2 linked regions of the Homo sapiens genome follow. The protein of the gene in region 1 purifies or fractionates together with the protein of each later gene. This does not show direct contact. Each region holds a gene or a part of one and is shown on either strand. Other genes may lie near its edges. The genes, in order: ERICH5 and NMT2.

Evidence for each region.
Region 2: the proteins of ERICH5 (region 1) and NMT2 purify together in Homo sapiens (affinity purification with mass spectrometry; one large-scale study listed by BioGRID and IntAct). This does not show direct contact.

The regions. Positions count from the first base shown.
Region 1 is NC_000008.11:98,088,383-98,091,478, forward strand, and holds part of ERICH5 (glutamate-rich protein 5), read left to right. Parts: intron 1-693; coding exon 694-1,647; intron 1,648-3,096.
Region 2 is NC_000010.11:15,112,974-15,116,798, reverse strand, and holds part of NMT2 (glycylpeptide N-tetradecanoyltransferase 2), read left to right. Parts: intron 1-3,825.

The sequences.
Region 1 (3,096 bases):
AGTTTCCAAGCTCATACAGTTGGAACAATGGCCAGAAGTAAAATGCATGTTTCTCTGCTTTCTGTTGATTTCTTTTCCCACTGTGCCCCCCAAATGACATGAAACTCAGGCTGAACTGTCTCTGCTACTTCCCTTCCCAGACATCTTAGCCTTTACCTATTAGGGCTTCTCTGCCACAGTCCTTTTTCCATTTGCTGGGGGCTTTCCTGTGTTAGAAGGAAAGTAAGACCTCTCTAGCAGCCCAAGGACCTCGCATCATGAAACCTTCTAAGTTTGGGAATCTTCTATTGCCCTCCCCGCCAAAACAAAAATGGAAAAAAAATTTTTTAAAAAGGAAACCTTCTAAGTCTCAAGAGGAGAAAGTGTGAGACAAGGAAAAGAAGAGAGAAACAGAGTAAGCTCAGTTAGAATCTGGGACAGGAGCCATGAAAAGATGCACAAGGAGCAAACAGGAGAAAACTGTGGTTTTGGAGGACTTCAGCGCTTAAGATTAAATGTTTGAGCTGAAGACAATAAAGGGATTTGACTGGGAGAGTGTTAGGGTCATGGTATGGCCTTTCTGTACTCAGATATATTTGGAACTGTCTTGAACTGTTAAATCTACTTTGTGATGTCAATTCACTTTTCAAGATAAAACTAAACAATAATTTGTGTTTTCTCTTTTCTTTTTCTTTTTCAAATGAATAACCAAAGTAACTTCAAATGAGCATTTTTCAACTGCAGAAGAAAGTGAGTCCTGCTTTGCCCAACCAAAGCCACATGCACTGGGAAGAGAATCTACTGTTGATGGCAATGTACAAAGGGAAAGCCGTCCTCCCTTACAAAAGCTCAAGGTTTCAGCAGAGCCTACAGCTAATGGTGTTAAACCCCTCCAAGAACAGCCCCTGGCCAAGGACGTAGCCCCTGGAAGGGATGCCACAGACCAATCAGGGTCCACAGAAAAGACTCAGCCTGGAGAGGGACTGGAGGAATCTGGGCCGCCTCAACCAGGTGGCAAAGAGGATGCCCCAGCAGCAGAAGGAAAGAAGAAAGATGCAGGAGCAGGGACAGAGGCCGAGTCTCTAAAAGGAAATGCTGAAGCTCAGCCTTTAGGACCAGAAGCCAAGGGTCAGCCTTTGCAGGCAGCAGTAGAGAAGGACTCTCTCAGAGCAGTGGAGGTCACTGAGAATCCACAAACTGCTGCAGAGATGAAGCCTCTAGGAACAACTGAGAACGTTCTGACTCTGCAAATAGCTGGAGAGCTACAACCTCAGGGCACAGTGGGAAAGGATGAGCAGGCCCCGCTTCTAGAAACAATTTCCAAAGAGAATGAATCTCCAGAAATATTGGAAGGAAGTCAGTTTGTGGAAACAGCTGAAGAGCAGCAACTTCAGGCAACATTGGGAAAAGAGGAGCAGCCCCAGCTTCTAGAAAGAATTCCCAAAGAGAATGTAACACCAGAAGTATTGGACAGAAGTCAGCTTGTGGAAAAGCCTGTTATGAATGATCCATTCCATAAAACTCCTGAAGGTCCAGGAAACATGGAGCAGATTCAACCTGAAGGAATAGTTGGAAGCATGGAGCATCCAGCACGAAATGTAGAGGCAGGAGCATATGTGGAAATGATCAGGAACATCCATACTAATGAAGAGGACCAACGCATTGAAGGTAAAAGTTATGCTGGCAAACCTGGATGTTTAGATGTGCTCCATAGGAGACCAGCTCTGGGGAGTGGGATGGGGTGACTGACACACAGTCCCTGAAGTCACTTTCAGGTGGTTGAAGTTCGTTTGACCAAACCAAAAAGGCTTCTGTGCCTGGGAAAGAGGCATTCTATTAATGCTCAGTTTGTCAGCAAAACTTTTCCGAAACATCATCTCTGTCCAAAATTTTAACCTAGTGTTTAAATAGTGTCTAACATTGAAGGCAACATGTGAAACTTTCTGAATTTTTCCAAGTTGACACTTCATCAGGCCCCATGTATGAAATCAGGATCCAAAGTAAAGGTGAATAGATGATTACTGGAGGAATTCACCTTCCAATGAAATGATATATACATAATGGATCTTAGAATGTTATTTTCATCTTTGTGAAGCTTATCTTAGAAAATGACTGTCAGGACAGGGTGCAGTGGCTCACACCTGTAATCCCAGCACTTCAGGAGGCAGAGGTGGGAGGATAGCTTGAGCCCAGCAGTTCATGACCTGCCTGGGCAACATAGTGAGACCTTGTTCTCCAGAAAAAAAAAAAAAAAGAAAGAAAAAAGGAAAAAGAAAATGACTGTCAGTCTGCTCTTGTTCTTCTGCAGTTTTAAAATCTGTATGAGAAGACCAGAGAAAATGTACTATGTCTTAGCATATGGTGTTTTAAAATTTTAACTGTATTTTACCAGCATAAAACAAATGATGTTTACAGTGTTCTTTATTGGTGTTATAATTTAAAAAAATATTTTCTTCTGGGGTATGATTTACATTTTGGTAAATTTTAGCTTCACAGTTCAGTATACTTAAGTGAAGCATTCATTATAATCATCCATCTGTTTTTGTTTAATTCTTTCATTTATTTATTTTATTTAATTAATTTATTTATTTTTTGAGATGGAGTCTTGCTCTGTTGCCCAGGCTGGAGTGCAGTGAAGTGATCTCGGCTCACTGCAACCTCCACCTTCTGCGTTCAAGCGATTCTCCCGCCTCAGCCTCCTGAGTAGCTGGGACTACAGGCGCACACCACCATGCCCGGCTAGTTTTTGTATTTTTAGTAGAGACGGGGTTTCACCACATTGGCCAGGCTGGTCTCCAGCTCCTGACCTCATGATCCACCCGCCTCGGCCTCCCAAAGTGCCGGGATTACAGGCATGAGCCACCATGTCTGGCCAATTCTTTCATTTATTAACTCAGCATTTTTTGGCATGCCTAAACATATGCTAGGTGCTGAGATGCAGACTGAGGAAGAGATAGTCTCTGTCCTCAAGGGGCTCACTGTCTAGTGTGGGAAGGCAGGATGTGCGTGCATCACCATAGTCTGTTGTGGGAACTGCTTTCCTAAGAATGTGTAAGAAGGGCCCTGGGAACAACTTGGGAGAGGCAAATAAAAGCAGGTAGTTTTTACATCAGGATT
Region 2 (3,825 bases), on another chromosome or scaffold:
TGTAATTAATGTTCATTTTATTCCCTTGTTATCCTTTTAGTGGCTGTGGGATCTGTACTGATATCTCTTCTTTCATACCAGATATTGGTGATTCGTGTCTTCTCTTTCTTTGTTTTTGTCCATATTGGTAGACTTGTATCATTTTATTGATTTGTTTCCCAGAGAACCAGACTTTTGTTGGATATTCCCTGTTGTCTTCCTGTTTTCAGTGTCATTGATTTCTACCCTCGTGTTTATTGTTTCCTTCTGTCTGCTTGCTTTGGGTTTATTTTGCTCTTCTTTTCTAGTTCCTTGAGGGAAGAACTTACTGACTTGAGACCTTTCCCTGTTACTAGTAAGCATTTAGTTCTATCAGTTTCCCTCTCTGCACTGCTTTAGCTATTTCTGACGTATTTTGGTATGTTGTATCTTCGTTGTCATTCACGTCTATGTATTTTTTGGTTTCGTTTGAGGCTTCCTCTTTAGCCCACCCCTACTTAGAATTGTGCTGTTCAATTTTGCTGTGTTTAGAGATTTTCTGTTGTCTCCCTATTACAGATTTCTAGTTTGATTCAATTATGGTTAAAGAACACACACTGTATGGTTTTGATTATTTTAAGGCTCTTGAGGTTTGTTTTATTACTCGGGATATGGACTGTCTTGATGGATATTCCATGGGTGCATGAAACGTGTATACCACTACGGTTGTGTGGAGTGTTCTTTGTATGGCAATTGCATCATGTTGATTAATTGAGTTATTCAGCTCTTCTGTTTCCATGCTGATTTTCTGTCTAGCAGTTCTATCACTTGATGAGAGGGGCATGGAAGTCCCCAGCTGTAATTGTGGATTTGTCTATTTCTCCTTCCAACACTGTCAGTTTTTCTTGATTTCTTCTGGGCCTCTTGTTTGATACTCACATGTATATTAGGGTCTTTGTGTCTCCCTAGTGGATTGATCTTTTTATCATAATGTAATACCTCTCTTTCTAATAATTTTCCTTGCTCTGGAGTATACTTTATTGTATATTACTGTGACCAGACCTGCTTTTAAAAATTGTTTGGACTTTTTCCATCCTTTTACTTTCAAACTATTGATGTTATTGAATTTGAAGTGAGTTTCTTGGAAACAGCCTATAGCTGGGTCATGTTTCTTTACCCACACTACTGATGTTTCTTTTGATTGGTGTATTTAGACCACTTACATAAAAGGTGATTATTGGTATGGTAGAGCTTAAGTCTACCATTTGATTATTTGGTTTCTTTATGTTTCTTCTGGTTCTTGTTCCTCTGTTTCTTTTTTCTTGCCTTGCTGTGGATTACTTGAATATATTTTAGGATACTGTTTTATTTATAGTACCTTTGGGTGTATTTGTATAGTTTTTATGATGGTTGATGTGAGTATTACAATATATATATGTGACTTATAGTCGATTGGTAACAACATTTATTACTTTGAGTCACCTTACTTTTATTTAGGTCACTTTACCTTTTTCATTTTTAAATATTGTTGTCTTAAATATCAGACAGTATTATGATTTTTGTTTTAATCATCAAGTATGATTTGTAACACTGATTAATAATGATGCTTGAGGAGAAGCATAATTTATTATATGTAGCCCAAATTTCTACTCTATTATTCTTCCCTCCTTCCTGATGCTTCAAGATTCCTTCTTTTATTATTTCCTTTCTATTTGAAGAAATTCCTTTAGCCAGTCTCAGGGTATGTCTGCTAGTGACACATTCTTTTGGTTTCCATTTGTGTGAGACTACCTCTGTTTTTAGATTTAGTTTCCCAATTTTTTTTTTTAATTTTTTTTGGAGACAGTGTCTTGCTCTGTCACCCAGGCTGGAGTACAATGGTGCAATCTCTGCTCACTGCAACCTCCGCCTCTTGGGTTCAAGCAATTCTTGTGCTCAGCCTCCTGTGTAGCTGGAACTACAGGCGCATGCCACCACACCCTGCTAATGTTTTGTATTTTAGTAGAGACGGGGTTTCACCACGTTGGCCAGGCTGGTCTCGAACTTCTGAGCTCAGAAAATCCACCCACTTTGGCCTCCCCAAGTGCTGAGATTACAGGCATGAGCCACCATGCCCAGCCCTAGTTTGCTAATATTTTACTTAGGATCTTCTATACTCACTACTGAGGTTGGCCATTAATTTCCCCTTCTTACCCTGTCCTTGTCCTGTCTTGATACCAAAGTTAGAATGAGCTGAAGAGCTTGTCCTCTCTTTTCTCTGGAACAGTGTATGTAATAATAGGGATTACTTGTTCCTTGAAAGTTGTTAGAAGTTGCTTATAAGCCATCTAGACATGGTGCCATGGTGGGTTTTGTTGTGAGCGGGGTTTTTTTGTTTTGTTTTGTTTTGTTTTGTTTTTTATCAGTCTTTACAATTGATTGGGTGTGAGGGACAATGGAAAGATCATCCCACTCTTCCCCAACAGTTGGTGATTCTCTGGTCATTTTAACAGCAAGAGAGGAAACAGTAATTTTACCAGCAATATGAATGTGAAGAAGTAGTTTTCTGAAAGCAGATGATGAAAATGGGGTGGGGAACCTAATCAGGTTCTGCAGGTGCCTGCAGTAATTCAGCGTATGAGATGGATATGAGAAATTCTTAGAAGAATCTAAAATCCTTATTAAACCTGAAGGTTGAATTCATCTCCAATACTGAGCTGCTAATATAGAGCAGTAGGGAATCACTGTAGATTAACCCCTTTAGTTTCTTGCTGGCTGAAGAAAGGTCTAATGACTCGGAAGCCTTTGAAAACCAAAGCATACATCCTTCTGGAATTTCCTTTTCTGCTGAAAGAAATACTAGCAGTGGCATGTGTGTGGTCCAGCCTCTTCAGCCGCACGATTCAAACACATCATATTCTAAAAGTCAGCAAGGCCACCACAGCTAATTACAACAACCCGAACAATACTGGCTAATTTCTTGTATTGGAAGCTTTGCCAGTGATGATGAAATGAATGTCATCCATTGTATCCCTTATTTTTGATAGCTGCAAAATTCTCCAGTTGTTCACATGTGTATATTTTGGTGCAGTAGTAAGACCTTTCACAAGCTTGCGAACTCTTCCAAACAGCTTCCAGACTCTACCCAACCTTACTTAGGCCTGATATAATTCTTTCTGTGTGCTAAGACAGTGTGAGATAGTACACAGTATCTTTTAGTTGGAGAAGGCAGCCCTCTAATCCTTAAAGCTTTTATTTCTGCAAAAACAATGAATCTGCTTTTATCACTGTTCCCTTAGTCTAAAGAATTGACTCATTTGTCAGCCTGAGGGAAGCTTTCCTTTTAGGACATTCTGCTTCTATCTTTCTTTCTTTTTTTTTTTTTTTTTTTTTTTTTTGAGTCTCATCCTGTCGCCCAGGCTGGAGTGCAGTGACACAATCTTGGCTCACTGCAACCTCCGCCTCTGGGGTTCAAGCGATTCTCCAGCCTCAGCCTCCCAAGTAGCTGGGATTACAGGTGTGCGCCACCACACCTGGCTAAGTTTTCATATCTTTAGTAGAGATGGGGTTTCACCATGTTGGTCAGGCTGGTCTCGAACTCCTGACCTCATGATCCACACGCCTCATCCTCCCAAAGTGCTGGGATTACAGGCATGACATTCTGCTTCCTAAGAACTTTGTGCAAATCACCAATGGGCACTTAGGCTGAAGTCCCAACTCCAGGCCCTTCTTGGCCTCTACACAGCACAATATAAGGGGCCCCAAATTGGACTGCCGAGAAAGAAGTGTGACTTACTGCTTTTCGTTCTCTGGGGCAAGGGAGAGAACAGAGTTAGTGGAAATGCACGTATGCAGTTGGTTCAAGGAGATCTCTGTCTGACAGCACTT